Homo sapiens: one gene and its partners. The protein of the gene in region 1 purifies or fractionates together with the protein of each later gene. This does not show direct contact. Each region holds a gene or a part of one and is shown in the gene's direction. Other genes may lie near its edges. The genes, in order: OTUD3, ZNF268, ABCF2, RP2, GNAT3, SLC7A11 and ARGLU1.

Region 1 (3,500 bases):
CTTTTTAAATTTAACATGTCTTGGGATTTAATTCATGGTAGTACATAAGGAACTTCCTGTATCCTTTTTAAAGGCTGCGTAGTGTTCTGTTCTGTAGATGCATTATAATATTTTTGACCAGTCACTTACTGATGGACTTTTAGGTGGTTTCTAACCCTTTGCTATTATAAGCAATGTGCAGTACCTTTTATGTACCTCATTTCACTCATGTATCTGTGGGACACATTCCTAGAAGGTCCTTGCCACATCAGAGGATGTTGATAAGTGAATTGTCAAATTACGTTCTAACAAGATTTCACCGGTTTAAACTCCCACCTGCAATATGTGGCTCTTTTCCTGCACGGTGCACTTCGTCAACATAGTGTTACCAAATTTTTAAATCCTTTTCATTGTTAGGGGAAAAATTGTTTACTTAACCTAGTTTTAATTTGCATTTCTCTTATTTATGCATCTTTTCCTGTGTTTAAGACATATTTCTATTTTTTGTAAATGGTATTCATTTTCTTTCTCCATTTTTTTCCTATTAAGTTGTCTTAATGATTTTGGGGAGCTTTTTATGTATTAGGGAAATTAGCCTCTGTCTGTGATATGAGTTGCAAATAGTTTTTCGCACTCTGTCATTTGTCTTTTTGTTCTTTCTCCTGTGGTCTTTGCTATGAAAGAATTTTAGATTTTTACATAGTTAAATTTGTTACGATTTTCTTATATGCCCTTTGGATTTTGGGTCATAACTGGGAAAGTCTTTCCCACTCTGAGGTTAAAAAGAATTCTCCCATAGTTTAGAATAGTACTTTCATAGTTTCACTTTATTTATTTATTTATTTTTTGAGACTGGGTCTCACTCTGTCGCCCAGGCTGGAGTGCAGTGCTATGATCATGTTTCACTGCAGCCTCAACCTCCCAGGCTCAAGCGATCCTCCTGAGTAGCTGGGACCACAGCTGTGTACCACTATGCCTGGCTAATTTTTTATTTTTTGTAGAGACAGGGTCTCACTTTGTTGCCCGGGCTGGTCTCGAACTCCTGGACTCAAGCAACCCTCCTGCCTCGACCACCCAAAGTGTTGAGATTACAGATGTAAGCTACTGCACCCAGCTCATAGTTTGACTTAAAAAAAAAATTAAATCTTGGCTTCATCTGAAATTTATATTGAAATAAGGGTAGGAGGCTATGGATCCAACTTTATATTTCCCTTGTGATTACCTAGTTGTACCCAAACCATTGATTAATTATACATCTTTTCTCCACTGATTTAAAATGCCACTTTCTTTCCATATACTAAATTCCCATATGTATTTGGGTCTATTCCTAGACATTTGGTTCTGGTCCACTGATCTCCCTGTTCACATGTTGATGCCTCATTGTTTTAGTTGGTATATTTTAAAATCTGGTAGGATTTTTCACTCATAATTAATTTTCTTTTTATAAGTTTCCTTATATGTTGTCTTTTTTAAAAAAAACAAAATGAATGTTAGAATCAATGTGTCTAGTTCAAAGGAAATCCTATTGAGGTTTTTTTTTTTGTTTTTTTTTTTTTTTTTTTGAGACAGAGTCTTGCTCTGTTGCCCTGTTGCCCAGGCTGGAGTGCAGTGGTGCAACCTCTGCCTCCCGGGTTCAAGCGATTCTCCTGCCTCAGCCTCCCGAGTAGCTGGGATTACAGGCGCTCGCCACTACCCTTGGCTAATGTTTGTATTTTTAGTAGAGACGGGGTTTCACCGTGTTGGCCAGGCTGGTCTTGAACTCCTGACCTCAAGTGATCTGCTTAACTTGGTCTCCCAAAGTGCTGGGGTTACAGGCGTGAGCCACCGTGCCCGGCCCTATTGAGTTTTTTAAAATTGGAATCTCATTAAATTAATAGAGTAATTTAAGGAAAAGCTGACATCTTTTTGATGTTGAGTCTTTTATTATTTAATTGACTTTGTGATCCACAGGAACATTTTCTTCATATAGATCTTGCCCACTTTTTGTTGAGTTTATTCTTAGGAGGTGTTTTGTGTTTTTTGTGTCTATTGTAAAGAGATCTTTTATGTTTTCTAGTTGGTTATCATTTGTCTGTGAGAGCTGTTAATAACAAGATGTTAATTACATAGGTATCCCACAGAACCCCTCTTTTTTTAAAAGTTAAGGCAAAATTCACATAACATAAAATTAATCATTTAAAAATATATAGTCCAGTGGTACTCAGTACATCTGCAGTGTTTGTTGTACAACCACTTCTTCTGTCTAGTCCCAAAATATTTTCATCACCCCAAAAGAAAACCTCATATCCATTAAGCAGTGACTCCCAATTCCCCCTCTCCCCTAGCAGTCACCAATCTGCCCTTCTTCTCTATGAATTTGCCTATTCTGGACATTTTATGTAAATGGAATTATATGTGACTTTTTCTTTGTGGCTTCTTTCCCTCAGTATAATGTTTTTGAGAGTCATTCATGGTGTAGCATGTATCAGTACTTCATTCTTTTTTATGGCTGAATAATATTCCATTGTTTGGAGAGATGATTTTTTGTGCACCCATTCATCTGTTAATGAGCATTTAGGTTGTTCCCACCTTTTGGCTATTGAGAATAGTGCTGCTGTGAGTATATGTGTACAGTATTTTTACAAATACCTATTTTCAGTCTTTTTGGATATACCTCGGAGTGGAATTGCTGGGTCATATGATAAACCTAAATTTAACATTTTGAGGAACTGCCAAACGGTTTTCCACAGCAGCTGCACTGTTTTACTTGCCACCGGTAATGTATGAAGGCTCTGCTTTCTCTTCATCCTCTCTGACAAATGTTTTTTTCTTAAATGGTCATCCTAGTTAGTATCTTAAAGTTTTTTTTCGAGACGGAGTCTTGCTCTGTCGCCCAGGCTGGAGTGCAGCGGCACGATCGTGGCTCACTGGCAAGCTCCGCCTCCCGGGTTCACGCCATTCTTCTGCCTCAGCCTCCCGAGTAGCTGGGACTACAGGGACCCACCGCCACGCCCAGCTAAATTTTTGTGTTTTTAGTGGAGACAGGGTTTCATCGTGTTAGCCAGGATGGTCTCGATCTCCTGACCTCGTGATCCACCCACCTCGGCCTCCCAAAGTGCTGGGATTACAGGCATGAGCCACCACGCCCGGCCAGTATCTTAAAGTTTTGAATTGCATTTTCTTAATAGCTAATGACATTGAACATCTTTTCATGTGGTTTTCGGCCATTTGTATATCTTTGGAAAAATGTCTATTCAAGTCTTTTGCCTATTTTTTAATTGGGTTCTGCCTTTTTGAGTTGTAAGAGTTTTTTAATATATTCTAGATGCTAGATTCTTACCCAGGTATATGATTTGCTGTAATTTTTTTGGTTTGCAGTAGTTTTTTGTTGATTCTCTTGTTTCAGTTACAGAATTATATCATCTACAAAGACAGATTACTTTTTTCTTTTTAATTTTATACTTAAAATTTATTTTGGCTAAATACTTTGGCTGTTACCTCCAAAATATTGTTAAGTAATAATGGGGGGAGTGATTATTGTG
Region 2 (2,838 bases), on another chromosome or scaffold:
ATATGTATATATACACACACACATACACACATATATACACATATATATACACATATACACATATATATACACATATATATAATAAGAACATTTACCATTTTAACTATTTTTAAGTGTACACTTCAGTGGCATGAAGTACATTATTTCCATTATTGTGCAACTATCATTTTACATTCCACCAGCAGTGCACAAGGCTTCCAATTTCTCCACATACTTGCCAATATTAATTAGTTTGTTTCTCTCTCATTTCATAGGCATGATCATAACTCACTGCAGCCCCAACCTCCTGGGCTCAAGGGATCCTTCCACCTCAGCCTCCTGGGTAGCTGGAACTACAGGTGCCACTACACCCAAATAGTTTTTTGGTTTTTTTGAAATGGAGTTTCACTCTGTCACCCAGGCTGGAGTGCAGTGGCACCATTTCAGCTCACTGCAACCTCCGCCTCCTAGGTTTAAGTGATTCTCCTTCCTCGGCCTCCTGAGTAGCTGGGATTACAGGCATGTGCCACCATGTATGGCTATTTTTTGTATTTTTAGTAGAGACAGGGTTTCACCATGTTGGCCAGGCCAGGCTAGTCTCAAACTCCTGTCCTCAAGTGATCCACTTACCTTGGCCTCCCAAAGTGCTGGGATTACAGGCTTGAACCACTGCACTTGGCCTCCATATTTTTTATAATAGCCACTCTAACATGTATGAAATGGTATCTCATTGTGGTTTTGATTTTCCTTTACCTAATGGCTAGTGATGTTGAAAATCTTTTCATGTACTTCTTGGCACTGGATTTGGCAATGATTTATTGGATATGACACCAGAAGCATGGGAAACAAAAGAAAAAATAGGTAAATTGGACTTCACCAAAATTGAAAACTTTCGGCATCAGTGGACACTATCAAGAAAGTGAAAAGGAGCTGGGTGTGGTGGCTCACGCCTGTAATTCCAGCACTTTGGGAGGCCAAGGTGGGAGGATCACTTGAGGTCAGGAGTGCGAGACCAGCCTGGTTAACTTGGTGAAACCACGTCTCTACTAAAAATAAAAAAAAAGAGAAAAAAAAAAGCCGGGTGTGGTGGCATGTGCCTGTAATCCCAGCAACTCAGGAAGCTGAGGCAGGAGGATCGCTTGAAGCTGTGAGGTGGAGGTTGCAGTGAGCCGAGATCATGCTACTGCACTCCAGCCCAGGTGACAGAGCAAGAAAGCAAAATTCCATCTCAAAAAAAAAAAAAAGGCCGGGTGTGGTGGCTCACGCCTGTAATCCTAGCACTTTGGGAGGCTGAGGCAGGTGGATCACGAGGTCAGGAGATCGAAACCATCCTGGCTAATGTGGTGAAACCCTGTCTCTACAAAAAAATACAAAAAATTAGCCAGGCTGGTAGTGGAAGCCTGTAGTCCCAGCTACTTGGGAGGCTGAGGAAGGAGAATGGCGTGAACCTGGAACCAGTGAGCCCAGATCTCACCACTGCACTCCAGCCTGGGCGACAGAGCGAGACTCCGTCTCAAAAAAAAAAAAGGTGAATATAGGAGAAAAGACACTGTAAAATAATATACCTGATAAGGGTCTAGTATCCAGAACATATAAAGAACTCTTACAACCCAACAACAAAAAGACAACCCAATATCAAAATGGGCAGAGGACTTGAAGAGACTTTTCTGTAAAGAAGATATGCAAATAGCATATGAAACGATACTCAACATCACTAGCCATCATGGAAATATAAATCAAAAATACAATGAGATAACACTCCATACCCATCAGAATGTCTTATTATTTTAAAAACAAACCAGAAACAAGTATTGACAAAGAAGTGGAGAAATGTGAACACCGCTGTAAAATGGTAAAGCTGCTATGACTGACCCTTGCTACAACGTGGAGGAACCTCAGAAACATTGTGCTGAGAACCCAGCACAAGGCCACACACCTGTAATCCCAGCTACTCGGGAGGCTGAGGTGGGAGGGTCGCTTGAGCCTGGGAGTTCAAGTCCAGTCTGGGCAGCATAGCAAGACTCCATGTCTACAAAGATAAAAATAAAAGCAATGTGCAGAAAGAGGCTGGCCACAAAAAGGTCACATACTGTATGATACCACTTATATGAAATACCCAGAATGGGTAAATCCAAAGAGAGCATATTGGTGGTTGTCAAGGGTCGGAGGGAGGATGAAATGTGTGACAGCTGCTTAATGGATGGAGGATTTCCTTTGGGGTGATGAAACTATTTTGGAACTAAGAGGTGGTGGCTGCACAATGTTGTGCATGGACTAAATGTCACAGAAATGTACATTTTTAAAAGTTAATTTTATATTGTGTAAATTTTACCTCAATAAAAAAATCTAGTCCACAGCATTCCCTCACCAGGGTCAGCCCTCTTAGCCTCACATTTAAGTCCCTCCATAGCCCAGTGCTGCCTGGGCCTGGCCAACCACATTCCAGACATGTGCTCCAGCCACACCATCTGCCAGCTCCTAAACCCATGGCTGTTTCATCATTCCAGGTCCAGGTCACCTTCTGATGCCTTCACAGACACTAAGTGATCAGCAGTGCCTCCTTAGGGCACACAGGGTCTTTTGAAACTTGCATTGCTGGAATTCATAGCTCGGCACGTGGTATCCAAGGGTTGTCCCATTTCAATAAGGAGAAATCAGTGTTTTCTGACCATCACCATGCAGCTATCTTGCTCAGGTGACTCACAGCTATCTGCTAGGTATGGCTAGTTCCTTGTGCAGAGGGGAGGGCCAGGCTCAGGTGATTGAATGATTCACCTGCAATCACACAGCCTCCAAGTGAGGTTCACACTCAGGTTCCAGCCCAGAACCTCGTTTCCAGGTGCCACTCAAAGTTTGTGA
Region 3 (3,500 bases), on another chromosome or scaffold:
TCCCTCTGCCTTCTTGAATGCCTTCTTAATTCTGCTTCACTGGAGTCTACACATTTACCCCACCTCCCATGACCACAGGAGAATGGGGGTCAGGATCTCAATAGCCCACTGTTGTGCCTTGCCTTTTCATTTTATATTTCAAAAAGCATGTAAGAAACTAACGATTGATGTCCTCTTCATTCATAGTCATAGGAGTATTAGTTTATAATATAGCCTTCCAGAAACTTCATGTATACTTGCACACATTTGTAGAAAATGTCATGTATACGTAATCTTTTTCTTTTTATACAATTGCAGCTTTTTTTTTTTTTTTTTTTTGAGCTGGAGTCTTGCTCCGTCGCCAGGCTGGAGTGCAGTGGCGCGATCTGGGCTCACTGCAACCTCCACCTCCCAGGTTCAAGGGACTCTCCTGCCTCGGCTTCCTGAGTAGCTGGGACTACAGGCGCATGCCACCACACCCAGCTAATTTTTGTATTTTTAGTAGAGATGGGGTTCACCATATTGGCCAGGATGGTCTCCCTCTCTTGACCTCATGATCCGCCTGCCTCGGCCTCCCAAAGTGCTGGGATTACAGGCGTGAGCCACCGCACCCGGCCTCTTTTTTCTCGAGATGGGGTCTGTCTCTGTCACCCAGGCTGGAGTCCAGTGGCGTGATATTGGCTCACTGCAACTTCTGCCTCCCAGGTTCAAGCGATCCTCCCACCTCACCCTCCCAAGTAGCTGAGACCACAGGCACATGCCACCATACCCAGCTAATTTTTATATTTTTAGTAGAGACGGGGTTTCGCCATGTTGGCTAGGCTGCTGTCAAACTCCTGGCCTCAAGTGATCCACCCACCTCAGCCTCCCAAAGTGCTGGAATTACAGGTGTGAGCCACTGCACCTGGCCACAGTTACAATTTTAATAATCATTCTGTAGGTTGCTTTTTTAAATTTAGTATATTTTGGACTGCTTTCCATGTGAGTATATATAAATCAATCACAATCTTTTCAGTCACTGCATAGTATTTCGTTATGTGTTTATCCTGTAACTTGTTAGGCCCTTTCTGGTGGATATTTAGCTTGAGTCCAGTTTTTGTTTGCAGATAGAAACCATGGTAGTCCACTTATGCAGGGTTTGTCAGCTTCTAAATCTGAATGGTCTGTTTTCCCCTCTGGAGACAGCTCTTGCAGTCTTTTGTGGGGCTTCAGCCTCTAGGGAACGGGGAAGGAATAGGAGGTGGTATTGGAAGGCTCTGAGCCTCGTGACGTCCGTATGACCGTGATTTTCAGGACTATTCCCAGTGCCACAGGTGTCTTTCTAGCTAACCTAAGGATTTGCGCTGGAGCCTGGCCCTGGCTGGGCTGAGCGAGGGGCATAGAATTGAAAAGACTCCGATTTGATGTTAGGATATGCTTCTGTAATGCACGTCCTCTCTTCTTACTGCACAGCCTTAGAGCCAGGGCCAAGTTAGTGCCATCCCTCATCCCCCTAAACTCTGAGTGAGAATCCAGGATTGAAACCCAGGTTAAAGCTGCCTGCCTTACCTGGCACATTTCCATGCAGGGTAATTATGATCAGTACGTGAAGACGCGGCTAGAGCTGGAGGAGAACCAGATGAAGAGGTTTCACTGGGAGCAAGATCAGATTGCACACATGAAGGTAGGGAGACTGCAGAGTCAGGCTCATGGCCTCCTGTCTGAAAGAAGCAGGGGGCTCGGATGAGGGCATTTCGAGAAGCGGTAGTGATGGAGGATGTCGGGAAGAAGTTACGATCAACATTTTTACCCTGGATTGAAGATGAATTGTTGAGCGCCTGCACATACTCCAAGCTCTCTTTGGTCTTTTTTAGAACTACATTGCGAGGTTTGGTCATGGCAGTGCCAAGCTGGCCCGGCAGGCCCAGAGCAAGGAGAAGACGCTACAGAAAATGATGGCATCAGGACTGACAGAGAGGGTCGTGAGCGATAAGGTGGGGTGTGATTGGGTGGGGTGTGATTGGGTGGGGTTGGGTGGCCTAAGGTGAGGTGGATAAGAAAGGAGCCAACTTGATAAATGCCCTCTTTTCTTCCTAGACACTGTCATTTTATTTCCCACCATGTGGCAAGATCCCTCCACCTGTCATTATGGTGCAAAATGTGAGCTTCAAGTATACAAAAGATGGGGTAAGTTCAGGGCAGGGCATGGGTGGCTGGGGTGTATCTTAGGGTGAGTGGCAGCTCATGGGAGTTGCTCCTGTTCTGTGCTGACCACACCTGCTAGCCCACGTGCTCTGGGGGATTTTCAGGTGTGGCAGCTGGGGTGCCTCATCCAAGGCTGCTCGCGGGCCTTTCTTCGTGTATATGGAAAGAAGACTACTCAGCTGGGTTGGTGGGCGGAGGCAGTGGGCGAGGCGGGGTCTGCTATGAGTGCTTCCTCCCGCTACTCTCCCTTCCTCCTCTCTTGGTGACTGGGAATTCAGCGGGCTTGGTCTGCTGGTCATAGCAGATCTGTATTCTAGCCTTGTGTCCACATCTCTCTCATCCCCACCTCAGCCTTGCATCTACAATAATCTAGAATTTGGAATTGACCTTGACACACGAGTGGCTCTGGTAGGGCCCAATGGAGCAGGGAAGTCAACTCTTCTGAAGCTGCTAACTGGAGAGGTATGGTGCCAAGGTGGGCGTGGATCCCTCTAAGATTAGGCCTTGCGATGGTTAAGGAAGAGGGGAGTGATGCAGGGGCTACTACTTTGGGAGGGCCTGAGTACCCTGGTGGTGAGTGAGCCATCTGGAGGGGTGGAGCAGCAGCCAGGAGAGGGGGAATGTCTGGTTGGACAGTGCTGAGGCTGGGGGCTGTTTTCCTGGGACAGGGATAGGTAGGGAGGAGTCTTAGAGTGTGTGTGTGAATACATGTATGTGTTTAAGCACGTTTCTATTTTCTTTTTTTTTTTTTGAGGTGGAGTCTCGCTCTGTTGCCCAGGCTGGAGTGCAATGTGCGATCTCAGCTCACCGCAACCTTCATCCCCCGAGTTCAAGCAATTCTCCTGCCTCAGCCTCCCAAGTAGCTGGGATTACAGGCACACGCCACAGCTAATTTTTTTGTATTTTAGTAGAGATGGGGTTTCACCATGTTCATTAGGCTGGTCTTGAACTCCTGACCTCATGATCTGCCCACCTCGGCCTCCCAAAGTGCTGGGATTACAGGCGTGAGCCACCGCGTCTGGCCCATGTTTCTATTTTCAATCAGAGCATTTAGAATATAGGAACATCTGTGCATTTAGGGATGCTGCAGGTTCTCAAGTAATGTCATTTCATTAATATTGATGAAAAATAGAAATGATTCCCAGCTGGGGCCACTGTCTTTGTGGAGTTTGCACTTTCCCTTTAACGTCTACATGGGTTTTCTCTGGTACTTCAGTTTCTTCCCAATTCCAAAGCTGCACCTGTCAGGTTACTTGGAACGTCTCAGTGGTTCCAGTCTGAATGAGTGCGGGTGTGTGAGTGCATCCTATAATGGAATGGTGTCCTCTTCAGGGCTG
Region 4 (3,500 bases), on another chromosome or scaffold:
CATTCTGATAGCATGTGTAACACCAAACTACTTTCAGTTTTCCTCCTACTCCCTGAAGAATTTTACTTTGTTCCGTCTGTTACTTTTGCCTGGCATGGGAAGGGAGGGTCCTTTATTCCTACCCCTTTTACCTAATGAGCTCTAGCTTATCCATTCTCATGTTTTGCAGAACTTCCGCCCCACTTCTCTTCCCCGCCCCAGATGTCCCTTCTCTGTCCCCTCCAAAATATTCTCAGCATCTCTCATTACATGGTCAAGTTGTTTTTAGTTTAGATGAATGTTTACTTTTATGGAAAGAGCTGGTCCTATTCATTTTAGTGCCTAAAACAATGTCTGGCTCATACTGGGTATTCAAATATTGGTAGAGTGACTGAACATCCAGAAAGTTAAGGGGATTTTTTCAAGATCCGGTTGCTTATAGGGGACAAAATTGGGACTGGAAAATGAGTACTTCTTTTATTGCCTCATACTGCAGACCAGTGTTCCTCCTAGTACAGCATGTAAAACTGGCTAAGTACAATATCTATTGTGCAATTACTAAGTCAATTTAAGCTCATTTGCTAATCATTAAGATGATTAAATTTTGCTTTGTAAATCAAATTTTTACATATTGTATATATGGGAGCCTATGGTGCATGAATGGTTTTGCATGAAGTTTATATAGTCACAAACAGTTAAAACAGTTGAAGTAGATAAGAAAGTCACATGGAAGAAACAAAAATAGGCTTTTAGTGACCATATTTTGATAGGTCAGGTAAAATAAAAAAAATTAATGTGACATTTTCCAGGCATACTGTTTAAAAGATTATGTGGGCCGGGCTCGGTGGCTCACACCTGTAATCCCAGCACTTTGGGAGGCCAAGGCAGGCAGATCATCCAAGGTCAGGAGTTTAAGACCAGCCCGGCTAACATGGTGAAACCCCATCTCTACTAAAAATACAACATTAGCTGGGCATGGTTGCACACGCCTGTAATCCCAGCTACTCAGGAGGCTGAGGCAGGAGAATCACTTGAACCCGGGAGGTGGAGGTTGCAGTGAGCCAAGATTGCGCCATTGCACTCCAGCCTGGGTGACAAGAGTGAAACTCCATCTCAAAAAAAGAAAAAGGCCGGGCACGGTGGCTCACGCCTGTAATCCCAGCACTTTGGGAGGCCGAGGCAGGTGGATCACAAAGCCAGGAGATCGAGACCATCCTGGCTAACATGGTGAAACCCCATCTGTACTAAAAATACAAAAACAGGGGCCAGGCGTGGTGGCTCACGCCTGTAATCCCAGCATTTTGGGAGGCTGAGGCGGGCAGATCACGAGGTCAGGAGATCAAGACCATCCTGGGTAACACAGTGAAACCCCATCTCTACTAAAAAATACAAAAAATTAGCCAGGCATGGTGGCGGGTGCCTGTAGTCCCAGCAACTCGGGAGGCTGAGACAGGAGAGAGCCGAGTTCATGCCACTGCACTCCAGCCTGGGCAACAGGGCGAGACTCCATCTCAGAAAAAAAAATACAAAAACAAAATTAGCCGGGTGTGGTGGCAGGCACCTGTGGTCCCAGCTACTTGGGAGGCTGAGGCGGAGAATGGCCTGAACCCAGGAGGTGGAGCTTGCAGTGAGCTGAGATTGCGCCATTGCATTCCAGCCTGGGCGACAGAGCGAGACTCCGTCTCGAAAGAGAGAGAGAGAAAGGAGGGAGGGAAGGAAGGGAAGGAAGAGAGGAAGGGAGGGAGGGAGGAAGGAAGGAAGGAAGTAGCGAAGGAAGAAAGGAGCGAAAGAAGGAGTGAAGGAAGGAGCGAGCTATAGTTTGGAAGATCTAAGAATAGAAATGGCCAAATTTGAAAAATTGCGTTGTAGCTTAATAAATGCTTGAATCAAATTTGCTTGCATTTACATATTGTGATTCTTGTGCCTTCAGGTTCTTCTGTTTTCTGTAGCATATTGCAGAAATCAGTTGGGGTTTAGAAACTGAGACCATACATTGATTTGAAAAAGGATAGAGAAATATATTTCAGTCTGGGTACATTCCCAATTTCAGAATTTTATTTTATTATTATTATTATTTTTGGGACAGAGTCTCACTGTGTCCCCCAGGCTGGAGTGCAGTGGTGCGATCTCGGCTCACTGCAACCTCCACCTCCGAGGCTCAAGCTATTCTTGTGCCTCAGCCTCCCGAGTAGCTGGGATTACAGACATGCGCCACCACGCCTGGGTAATTTTTGTATTTTTAATAGAGACGGGGTTTCGCCATGTTGGCCAGGCTGGTCTCGAACTCCTGGTCTCATCTGATCCTCCCACCTCGGCCTCCCAAAGTGCTGGGATTAAAAGCAAGAGCCACTGCACCCAGCCTCAGATTTTTTTAGAAATTAGAAGTTTTAAAAATGAAGCATCAAAAAAGAAAAAGTATCAGAAAGCTGAAATAGCAAGGTCATGGTTAAGATCATTAGATACATAGGATATGAGTTGAATTTTTCATAGCGCTTTTATTAAAACAATCATTTAAAAATATATTTTTGACCCTGGTACTCTACAAAGCTTAGTACATTTTTTACTTTTATAAATTCCAAATAGGCTAAAAGCCTACTGACAATATTGACAGTAGCAATGATGATGTAGGTGTCACTTGGGTTAAGTCATGGGAAAACTCAAACCATAGTGTCACAGAGGCTACCCTTTAGCTTTGCATGCCCAGAACACAATTTAATAGCAAAGAGAGGGGATCTGTCTTCTGGGAGGTGTGTATGTTGACTAAGATCATAGGTTTTATATTATTATTGAGAGAAACAATTTGTCCTGTTCATTTTGTTACTGTGTTTCAAAGTCATTGAGATTAAGAATTTATATTTCAGCACTAAGAACTGTGCCTGGCAGCCAATAGTCCTTTAGTTGATACTTGTTGAATAATGTTAATAATACTCAAGGTCTGTGTTTTGTTCCTGCAGGTTGATCCAAAAGACTACATGTTCAGTGGACTGAAGGATGAAACAGTAGGTCGCTTACCTGGGACGGTAGCAGGACAACAGTTTCTCATTCAAGACTGTGAGAACTGTAACATCTATATTTTTGATCACTCTGCTACAGTTACCATTGATGACTGTACTAACTGCATAATTTTTCTGGGACCCGTGAAAGGCAGCGTGTTTTTCCGGAATTGCAGAGATTGCAAGTGCACATTAGCCTGCCAACAATTTCGTGTGCGAGATTGTAGAAAGCTGGAAGTCTTTTTGTGTTGTGCCACTCAACCCATCATTGAGTCTTCCTCAAATATCAAATTTGGATGTTTTCAATGGTACTATCCTGAATTAGCTTTCCAGTTCAAAGATGCAGGGCTAAGTATCTTCAACAATACATGGAGTAACATTCATGACTTTACACCTGTGTCAGGAGAACTCAACTGGAGCCTTCTTCCAGAAGATGCTGTGGTTCAGGACTATGTTCCTATACCTACTACCGAAGAGCTCAAAGCTGTTCGTGTTTCCACAGAAGCCAATAGAAGCATTGTTCCAATA
Region 5 (3,500 bases), on another chromosome or scaffold:
TAACTCTATCTCTGACTACATTTAAAATGTTAGTGTCTCTACTGTACCAGGAGATGCTGGCACTTCTCTACTTACTCTGCACCTTCATCAAAATGAAAACTGCTAGAGTTCTATGATTTTCACCAGAATCTTCAAGCTGACTGTTTCAGAATATTTCTTTCAAACTCACACACTTTGTCTAAACTAGAGAGGCAGATACATCTACTGCTATATTCTCTGGCTAGGTCCAAATCAGAATAAACATTAAACTTATCTCCCATCTGGCCTCTATCGCCCTAAAATTAATTACAACAACGCCAGCCTACAACGCAATAAATCTCAGCATAGTTATGCTAAGCCTTCACCCTTTTACCAAGTCATGCCACATCTACACAATTTGTCTCCAAACATGTCATTGATCTCCATTGGTCATCATTTCTGACCTAGATTAATTCAGTATCTTCCTAAGGAGCTTCTACCTCCCTTCTCTTCCCTTCATTGCATTATCCACACTGCCATGAACTGATCCATTTAAAGCTGATTTTATCTCCTGAATTCAACTCTTCACCCTTGCTGTCAAGATCAATCTCCTTGCCATGGCACACAAGACACTGGAGCCCAGTTCTTGCCGATGTCTTCATCCTCCTGTCCTGTAATTTCTCCCCTACTTCCTGCTTCACTAATGCTGACCTTTTATAAGTCTGTAGACTAACACACTATAGAAGGCTGAGCATCATGGCTAAGATCATGGACTGTACATCAGATTGTGTTTGTGGCCCAGGTGTATCACAAACTAACTGAATAAGTTGGGGGTATTTGCTTAATTTATCTATGCTGACATTTCTTACTTATAAAATGTAGATCATAATTGTATCTACTTTAAAGGGCTTATTGTAAGAAATAAGACAGATGAAGTGCTTACAATAGTGCTTGGCACATATTGAACACTTGAAAATTGTGAGCATCTATTTGCTCATACTGATCTTTCTTCCTACAATGATTCTCTCTCCTTTTGACCATCTAGGAATAACTATCCTTGAACAATCAGCTGATTATCACTGCTTCCGGGATGTCTTCTTTGATACCTTACACCTAGTAGAGTTTATCACTTTTTCTTTTCTATAGCATCTTACTATATGCAGAGTTTGTTCCTATGCATTATCATAATGTTTAAAAATCTCTTTATATGCTCTGCCTTCTTATAACTCAGTCCTCTTCAACAGAACTTTGTGGGATGATAGGAAAGTTCTCTATTTTGCCTTGAAATATGGCAGCTGCTAGCCACATGTGGCTTTAGTAGCCACTTGAAATGTTGATAGTGTGATTGAGAAACTAAATTTTTAATTTTACTTAATTTTAATTAATCATCTAGTGACTAATGTATTATACAGAGGAGCTCTAGTCTATGGTTTTGGGAAGGAGAGACTTGTATAATGTATTTCTTTAACACATAACACAGTATGTCACAGAAAATGCACAGTAAAAGCTTATTAATTTCAACAGACCTCAGAACCAACTTTGCAGTTGGAGTGCTCTATCTCACTGAAATTTATATATGCATCTCCTGGAAAAACGATGTTGTTTAAAGTCCCACTTCAACTGGACATTTTAACTTCTGTTTTTATCATTTTTCTTTGTGATAAATGTTTCTTCATCTTCTCATAGTAATCAGAACTTGTTTCATGAAGATAACCTAAGTGCCTCATGTTTATTCACAGTTGCCATTTTAATAATAATTTTCCAAGTTCAATTTGACAGAAAACTGGGATTTCTTTAATAAACTTATTCTTGATCTATCCATAAAGACATTTTACTGCATTTTTTTCTACAGCCTTTGTCTATTTTATTTACTTATGTAAGTTATTTAATGGTTTAATGCAGCAAGACAAACATGACCATGTTTAAAGTAGAAGTTCAGCAATGATTTGTAATCAAATATAAAAAACAACAAATAACAAATATAGGCTGTGCCTTTACTCCTTTCAGTTCAGATTTCTTGTATAGGAAGCTTCTAATATCTTCAAAGACATTAAAGAGGTGTTTATGCTCTTTTCCCCCCATGCTAAAGCCTTTATACGTGTAGACACAATATAAATCTTTAGTAATATGACATCCAAAAAGATGCCTAATGAATACAAAGGACTTCAAGACAATAAGAGAAAATAGAAAGGAACAAAAAAAATTATACAATAAAGATGCAAAAATACGTAACTGGCATATCTAACGATTTTAGCTTTTGATAGGTAAATCTATTTTAAGCTATTATTCGAAAACTACTAGTAAAATCTTGAGTTTGGCTGAATGAGTGGAAGGTAGAGAAGAGTTCAGCCAAATAAAATGTCAGGCATTTCAACTTTTATAACTCAGTGGCACGTACACAGATGGAGAACTGACAAGAAATTTAACAGGGCAATTACGTGTACTAAAAAAGATGCCTTTGTTAATGCTGTAAATAGAAAGCAGGCACTCCTATTTTTCAGCATGATAGGAAAAGTCATGAATGTTCTAAATGACTTCGCTTCCTCTAGACATCAGGTTGTAAACACAAGGTCAAGTTTCAAACTCTGTATATATCTTTGTCCTGGGAATCTAGAAATTTTTCTCTTAAAAAAATAGACTTTCTAAGTATAATGCTTATGATTTACCCATTTTAAAAAAGTATTTTTAAATAACAAATCCTAAGTCTTTTCATATTTATCATGGGTAGCCCAGAAAGAAAATACTGTATAAATGACAATGATAATAAAAGTCCAAAGGCATAAAATTGTTTAGAGTTAGCATATATGTATGGTCAAAATTCCTTTTTAATGAATATATACTGTAATTTTATTCAAGCAACTTAGTTGGATGTGCTTTAGTGTTACAATCAATTATTCAACTCACAGAAACTTTTCATGTTTAAATTATAGGATCATCCATAAGAATGGTTACAGTGAGCAAGAATGCATGGAGTTCAAAGCAGTAATTTACAGTAATACATTGCAATCCATCCTAGCTATTGTGAAAGCCATGACTACCCTTGGAATTGATTATGTAAATCCCAGAAGTGCAGTAAGTATGCAAATAATGACAGCTGTATGTCCTGCAATAGAGTTTGAGCCATAAAATAAGAGGACTTAATAAGTTCATAGTATTAATCTATATCCAAAATTTAAAAATATGAAACATGAATTTTGAAACATTAATTCTGTTTTGTGTAAGATTTCTTATTTTCCTTGAAGTGAAACTTTTTTACTATATACTGTAATATTATTCAACATTAGTTGTTTTCCTGAGGATTAAACTTAATATCAAATAATACACCATAACAAATAAAAATATTGCTTGTGATTGCTAAATACAAAAGAATTTATGGCATAAACACAATTTGCAATATCTCTACATTAATTTTTTTAGTTATGCCATTTCAAAGAGACTAAAAAATGTTTAATAACATAACAATTATAATTAATGTTTGACGATGATTACAAGGTCTGTGTGGCAACAGGGAAATGATTACTTGATAAGTTTTTTTTTAAAAA
Region 6 (4,021 bases), on another chromosome or scaffold:
CGCACACAGGCTTTTTGTTTGTGGTTTTTGTTCAAAGGTTCAGAAGCTTATTTAATGGTGCGTATAAAGGTAGCTTCAGGGTAATGATAACATTCAATTCTTCTCACTGAATCCAAAACCACATGTAACTATAGCCAAAAATGATATCTAGGATTTCTTTTCTTTTCATATTTGTTTTTTCTTGACACTTGGTTGAGAAAGTTAGAAGGGTTTAAAAATGTTTTGCCTTTTTGACTATTGCAAAGTAAATATTTTAATTTAGCTTACATTTTTAATGCATTTTAAATTTATAATAATAACAATAGTTTATATAATGTGGAAAAAAGTCATACATAATATCATTACTTTCTATAACTACCATTCTGTTTTCCTTTACAGGCTTTTGCTATATACATATTTTTATGTAATTGTAATTGTGTAATTTTGAACTTAGAAATTTTTTTTGGTAATTCAAAGGAACAACATGACAATGAAGGATATGTATCTTTTACATAGTTCAAAAAAATCACCTAGTGCTAATGAGAATCAGAAAATGACTATTTTCTGGAGTCATGGTGAATTTTGTATTAGTCACACTCGGATGGTGATTTAAAATACTGGTTTATTATGAGTAGTAAGAAATAATTTTATCTTTTAATGTTGAGGAAGGCTTATAGTTGTGTGTATGTGACAGAAGTATAAAGTGTAGAATCTTTAATTTTGTAAATATTGGATTTGACTGTATTGCCTTATAAAAAACTCAAAATAAAAAAATAAAAAGCATTACACAAATTATGAAATTCAAACTGTGTTGTTATAAACAATGTAGCTTTAGGATACATTCTACTCACAAAACAGTCGCATGTAAAATGTTTTTATACACGCATTAAAGAAAAAGAAACTCCTTAAAATGAAGTAACTATTTCCTGTTTCATTTTGTTTGAACAGCTTTTGTTGCTCACTACGAGTTGCTTTAAATCTCTGGGAAGGTCTGTTCCGAATTTACTACTTCTGGATTGGCTAAAATCTCTTTAAAGTGTGTGCTTTGTTCTCTAAAAAGCTTAGGTCAGTTGAGCAACAAGCTCCTCCTGTTTTTTTCTTTTTTTAAAAAAAAGAGCTGAGTAATGCTGGAGGCTTCTCATGTGGCTGATGCAAACCTGGAGAATTTGCATCATCATTTAGCTGTAGTAAGTTGGTGTGACAGGCAGGCGCTTAAATACAAGCCCATGAGGAAGCTGAGCTGGTTTGTAATGATAGGGCGGCAGCAGCAGCAGCAGCAGCAGTGGTGGAACGAGGAGGTGGAGAATTGAGAGCACGATGCATACACAGGTGTTTCTGAGTAGTAATTAGATCGCTGTGAAGGAAAAAGCACACCTTTGAGTTTTCACCTGTGAACACTATAGCGCTGAGAGAGACAGTCTGAAAGCAGAGGAAGACATCGATCAGTAACACCAAGAGACACCAAAGTTGAAAGTTTTGTTTTCTTTCCCTCTGTTTTATTTTTCCCCCGTGTGTCCCTACTATGGTCAGAAAGCCTGTTGTGTCCACCATCTCCAAAGGAGGTTACCTGCAGGGAAATGTTAACGGGAGGCTGCCTTCCCTGGGCAACAAGGAGCCACCTGGGCAGGAGAAAGTGCAGCTGAAGAGGAAAGTCACTTTACTGAGGGGAGTCTCCATTATCATTGGCACCATCATTGGAGCAGGAATCTTCATCTCTCCTAAGGGCGTGCTCCAGAACACGGGCAGCGTGGGCATGTCTCTGACCATCTGGACGGTGTGTGGGGTCCTGTCACTATTTGGTGAGTGCGACTTTTTCTCTCGTGGGGGCGTGGCTGTGGGGCTGGAAAGCTTGCTTTCTGGGAAAGCAAATGGTAGTTTTTGAGGAGTGAATGGATGGCAAAGGCCACACCAAATTTTTAAAATTTTTGTTCGGGTACGTGAACTACCCAGATGCAGCATCCGCTGTTGGTGTGATCTGGAACACCCTCAAATTGCTTCCTACAGGCTGTACTTTCTTTTCCTGACTAAGACAGGCTATCTTCTGACTTTTCTCTGTGGTGATGAGAGCAAAGGCTAACTTTCATGACCCAGTAAAAAACATGCACACTTTCTGTGCCGGGCAGTTGTACACTTAGCTTGGGCATTCTGGCAGCTGGCATGCTGAATGAGACACCTGTGAAGTGGAACCTGGCATGGGCTATTTAGACATAGAACGGAGTGTTCAGCAGAAGTCTTACTGACTTTTTATTAGCCAAACAAATGGGTGGCAGTCTTTATAAAAATATTTTTTAAGTTCATGTGCTTGTCACCTCTTAATATCCTTTCAAAAGTCCTTGACATGGGAGAGATGTATGATGGCGCATAACTCAATCCCTATCATAATGGGGTATATTGCAATGGCCTGAGCATATTTCAAATTACTTTTCAACCTTTCATCTCTTCTCAATACCCATACACTTTTGCAATATAAGTTTTAAAACTTCAGTTGGGCGTTAGTTTTCTGTACTTGCCCAGATCTGTTTTTTTCATTATATTTCACTTGTTCTCCAGGGACACAGAGAATTTGTCCACCTGTTCACTAAATTAATCTGAAGGGAACTGGCAGAAGTATAATTATGAATTTTTCTTCAAAGTTTATGTCTCTTCTATTGATCTGAGAATTAATAGTAAAGAGGTAAATAAATGCCCCCTTATGGAGTAGGCAAATTACTAGAGAGCTACCTGAGTTTGTTGTAAAGATGATAAAAACTGGTGAACTGTCAAACATTAAATTTGATTTATGCTATGAGGATTTATTTACTCTTCTTGGGAAAGATTCTGTACTTTAAAGTTGCTCTTTGTCTTAACTCTGGGACTAACACTAACTAACAAGTACTAACGCTAACTCTAGGACTAATTAACAAGTACTAACTCCTGTTCCCATGTGTACCAATCAATTCATTCTTTCTACTCAGGCCTTGTGATGTTTTAAATCATTGGTTTGACACTCATCTAGAGAACTCAAATTCCATTTTTTTTTTTTTTTTGAGACAGAGACTCGCTCTTTGCCCAGGCTGGAGTGCAGTGGTGTGATCTCGGCTCACTGCAACCTCCGCCTCCCAAGTTCAAGCAATTCTCCTGCCTAAGCCTCCCGAGTAGCTGGGACTACAGGTGTGTGCCACCACGTTGGGCTTATTTTTCGTATTTTTTAGTAGAGATGGGGTTTCACCATGTTAGCCAGGATGGTCTCGATCTCCTGACCTCGTGATCCACCCACCTCAGTCTCCCAAAGTGCTGGGATTACAGATATGAGCCACCGCGCCCGGTCCTCAAATTCCATTTTTAGGAAGAAGTTATTTTAAATAGAACTTGTTAAAACAAGTAGTATAGAAAGATTTATAGAGGAATTATTTGGGGTTTTTAGAGAGAGTTTGTGGTATTATTTATAACTAACTTGTGCTTTATTAAATATTCAGTAACAATTGTGTATCATTATTTCCCAGTATTACTTCCCATCTTTATAAAATAATTTGGAGTAATATCATTATGAAAAACTCTAATAGTACCCTTAGCCACTATTAATATTAAAATAGCTCTGGTATATGCACTTATAGAAAAAGAGAAACCTAATTGTTGATCATCTTAAATGATTTTGTGCACCCTCAGCCTTTAAATCTTCCTACAGCACTTTATATATTCAGAATAAATCAATATCTAATCAGAAAAACCACAACCAGTTTACTGGACTTTGCGTACTTATGTGCATGCAGCTTCCACTATGTGATTCAATTTTTGCACATAATAAAAGATTATTCAGATGTAATAAAATAGATCAGTATGAGTATTGAACTAGTTAAAGTGTGTTGACTTGCACTATGAAAATATGCTTATGCATAAGTATTACATATCATCTGAAGCAAAAGCTCAAAAAAAAATAAAAAGAGAGAAACAGCTAAGGAGACTAGCTAACATTACACTTGAGTTGGTATTCTTTGATTAGTAATTGCAGGGAGTGTGCTCTTGTATTAATCTACTTATCTTTATTTGCATTGCATTTGTCACT
Region 7 (2,965 bases), on another chromosome or scaffold:
TGAAGAACAAAGAAAGATTCATGAGGAAAGGATGAAACTAGAACAAGAACGACAACGTCAACAAAAAGAAGAACAAAAAATTATCCTGGGCAAGGGGAAGTCCAGGCCAAAACTGTCCTTCTCATTAAAAACCCAGGATTAAATTGCAAACTCTGAACTTTTTACAAAGAAAAATGGAAAAACTTTGTATGGTAGCTTCATGTTGAAGTGGTTTTTTGTTTTTGTTTTTGTTTTTTTAATTTGTAAAATCTGGAAAGTTAGCTTGTTCTAATAGGGGCTATGCTCTGCAATTCCCTTTTTTTTTTTTTTTTTCCTTCCACTAAGTCAAATCCTTATCAGATCATTGTTGTATTCTAAGGAGTGACGTATTTTTCACCTGTTTGGATTCTATATTAGTGGTCTGAGGAAGAGCAGATCACATTGTAAAACTATGGATGGTCTGATAAGGCTTTTACTGACCCCACTGACTTCAGAGTTATACTCTGTTTGCTACATCATAATGCTGGTTTTGCTGACTTTTTGTTTTTTTATATATTTATAAAAAAAGAAAAAGTTGGTGATTGCATTGGGAAATTCCCAGGGTATTACTGGACCTATGTGGTGTATTGTTAAACCAGTGTCCTTGTGATACTGTTGCTCTTGATGTTCCTGATACAGGTAAGGAAACAGTTGGTCAACTCTGATACAAAGTATATATACAGTTCAGTATTGTCTCTGTTCATTTTGTTTTTATTTCATTGACAAAATCAAACCAGCATTCCCCATTGTGTAAATAAATGATTTTGCTGAATAAAGTAAAGTCTTAAATTCATATGTTGAAGCAATTTTTTTTAATGTTATGTTAAGTCTTAAAGAGGGTGGTTCACTTTTTGATGGTCAACCATTTAGAAGTCTTAGAACTATATTTCCTCTTGTTTATACTTTTAACATAGGGTTTATATGTACATTAAATATACTTGTGAATTAGTATTTAATGGCTATTTTTACAAATATCAACTTTATGCTGATAGAGCAAATGGCATCAGTGTTACCTTTAAGAAAGACTAACAACATCCAGAAGATTTAAATTCTCAAACCTGTGCCTCTGTTTTAGGATATAAGTATTATCACAAAGTATACTTAATAAAGGCTAGAAAAATGCTTTTAAATTATGGAATCTGAGATCGTTTTCAGAGTGGGCCATCAGAAAGAACTTAGCTTTATACTGTCAAAAAAAGGCTAAGATGGTCGAGTCATTTTCATTGTGTAGTGTACTTGCACGTTTATTTTTAGGACAAACACATTTGAACTTTATGAATTTTTTTTTTTTTTTTGCATGTGAAATCTTATGAATGGCTTTCATTTTATACACTAGAATCTGCCTCATTTACTCTTAACATATGTTTAAGTATACTGGTATTAAAACATTCAAGAAAAGGATATTGATCTAAAATGCTACCTGAGATGCATAAACATGTCATCAAGTAGAGAAAATATTTTTATTTTTGCCCAATATTTTTTAGACAGTTTGATTATTCTTAAAAATTGAAAACATAAGCTAAAGAGATGACTAAATGGTAGATTATTTTGTGTGTGCATGCTAGGAAAAATGCTGTTGCTTTAGTTTTGAGCTCTTCAATGAGTCTAATTGTGGTAAGGAACAATATAAAATCAGTTTAAAGATCTTTAAAGGTAGAATTTTAAATAGGCATGAAATATAGTGAGAACTTTTAGTAAACATACTACTTACTCTAAAATCAAACATTTTATTTTCCTAAAGAATATAGGTTGCCAAAAAATATTTTATCTCTAAATATAGGTTAGCTGTAATTATTTCATGAATTTTTTTTTTTTTCAATGTAACTTTTTTTGGTGAAGATTCATGGTTCCTAAGTTCTGTATTCAAGTTTTTGGAAATGTTTATTTAAAAACTGTTCTATACAAGTGTTCAAAACATTGTATCTAAAGAGAGTAGCCTGGACTTAAAATATTTGAAATCAGCTTATGCGTGCCTTTTAATTTTTTTTTTAAGTTTCTTACTGCCACATATGGTGTGAAGTGACAGTAAGTTGCTTAATGACATCCTGCAGTATCTGCTTGCTTTTGGAGACTCCAGTGAGATGTTGAAATTGTTCCTGTGCTTGGTAACTACTTTCCTCTGCCAGGCTATGGGAAAGAGGATGTAATTGTGAATAATATACACCATCCAGTCTTTAATGTGCTGCAACAATGTAGTAATTTGTTTTTTTCATTTGTTCCCACTGCCTTTGTGTACATAGAAAACTTAAAAATTTCCCCCAGTCTATTAGAAGTTAAGATGTTCCCTAATTTATTAAATATGCCTTTATTCACAATTTGTTTTTTTAGGTTATTCTTAATGCATTATAGAATTAAGTATGACTTTGTTTATTTTTATTACAGTATGTAGTTATTGACATATTGTGGTTTGCAGAATTATCAATTGTATAAACTAAACCTTTAAATTAGCTTGGTGTGAGGACTCTTTAATGCTTTAAATTGGGGAAGGGGTTTGTAGTATGAGATTTTACCTACTTCAGTTTCCCTTATGAAGATGCAGCAAATCAGACTATTTCTACCCTAAGTAATCTCCGTATTCATTTACTGTGCTAGTATGTGTCCATAGCTTTTTTTTTTTTTTTTTTGTATCACCACCTGTCCTGGATTTAGCAGTATCTTAAGAATTTTCAGTGGTTTGTATTTTTTCAATTTTCTAAGTATAGTAAGCGTAGAATCCTGACTTGTTGAACTCTATGTATCATTTCTAATGCCTCATTTTATGAGGAGCCTGTCACTTCACTGACATTTCTCCAAAGCTATTTCTATCCATTAGAGCGTCTCTTTTCAGTTGTCTAAATTTTCTGCATCTTTACACGCAAAACCATTCATCTGTTTTGTATTAATGGCCATGAGAAATACTGAAGACAGGCTATCCTAATTTTTGAGGCTCTCCTCCCCCTCCAGGAGA

What was found.
Region 2: the proteins of OTUD3 (region 1) and ZNF268 purify together in Homo sapiens (affinity purification with mass spectrometry; one large-scale study listed by BioGRID and IntAct). This does not show direct contact.
Region 3: the proteins of OTUD3 (region 1) and ABCF2 purify together in Homo sapiens (affinity purification with mass spectrometry, with the first as the bait; one large-scale study listed by BioGRID). This does not show direct contact.
Region 4: the proteins of OTUD3 (region 1) and RP2 purify together in Homo sapiens (affinity purification with mass spectrometry; one large-scale study listed by BioGRID and IntAct). This does not show direct contact.
Region 5: the proteins of OTUD3 (region 1) and GNAT3 purify together in Homo sapiens (affinity purification with mass spectrometry; one large-scale study listed by BioGRID and IntAct). This does not show direct contact.
Region 6: the proteins of OTUD3 (region 1) and SLC7A11 purify together in Homo sapiens (affinity purification with western blotting; one study listed by BioGRID). This does not show direct contact.
Region 7: the proteins of OTUD3 (region 1) and ARGLU1 purify together in Homo sapiens (affinity purification with mass spectrometry, with the first as the bait; one large-scale study listed by BioGRID). This does not show direct contact.

The regions. Positions count from the first base shown.
Region 1 is NC_000001.11:19,899,395-19,902,894, forward strand, and holds part of OTUD3 (OTU domain-containing protein 3), read left to right. Parts: intron 1-3,500.
Region 2 is NC_000012.12:133,212,495-133,215,332, forward strand, and holds the end of ZNF268 (zinc finger protein 268), read left to right. Parts: 3' UTR 1-2,338; downstream 2,339-2,838.
Region 3 is NC_000007.14:151,217,206-151,220,705, reverse strand, and holds part of ABCF2 (ATP-binding cassette sub-family F member 2), read left to right. Parts: intron 1-1,546; coding exon 1,547-1,642; intron 1,643-1,832; coding exon 1,833-1,952; intron 1,953-2,055; coding exon 2,056-2,145; intron 2,146-2,514; coding exon 2,515-2,625; intron 2,626-3,500. Other genes in the region: ABCF2-H2BK1 (ABCF2-H2B protein), read left to right, coding at 1,547-1,642, 1,833-1,952, 2,056-2,145, 2,515-2,625.
Region 4 is NC_000023.11:46,850,543-46,854,042, forward strand, and holds part of RP2 (protein XRP2), read left to right. Parts: intron 1-2,933; coding exon 2,934-3,500. UniProt on the Homo sapiens protein: Acts as a GTPase-activating protein (GAP) involved in trafficking between the Golgi and the ciliary membrane.
Region 5 is NC_000007.14:80,488,065-80,491,564, reverse strand, and holds part of GNAT3 (guanine nucleotide-binding protein G(t) subunit alpha-3), read left to right. Parts: intron 1-2,888; coding exon 2,889-3,030; intron 3,031-3,500. UniProt on the Homo sapiens protein: Guanine nucleotide-binding protein (G protein) alpha subunit playing a prominent role in bitter and sweet taste transduction as well as in umami (monosodium glutamate, monopotassium glutamate, and inosine monophosphate) taste transduction.
Region 6 is NC_000004.12:138,239,550-138,243,570, reverse strand, and holds the start of SLC7A11 (cystine/glutamate transporter), read left to right. Parts: upstream 1-1,221; 5' UTR 1,222-1,501; coding exon 1,502-1,778; intron 1,779-4,021. UniProt on the Homo sapiens protein: Heterodimer with SLC3A2, that functions as an antiporter by mediating the exchange of extracellular anionic L-cystine and intracellular L-glutamate across the cellular plasma membrane.
Region 7 is NC_000013.11:106,541,173-106,544,137, reverse strand, and holds the end of ARGLU1 (arginine and glutamate-rich protein 1), read left to right. Parts: coding exon 1-142; 3' UTR 143-2,465; downstream 2,466-2,965. UniProt on the Homo sapiens protein: Dual function regulator of gene expression; regulator of transcription and modulator of alternative splicing. General coactivator of nuclear receptor-induced gene expression, including genes activated by the glucocorticoid receptor NR3C1.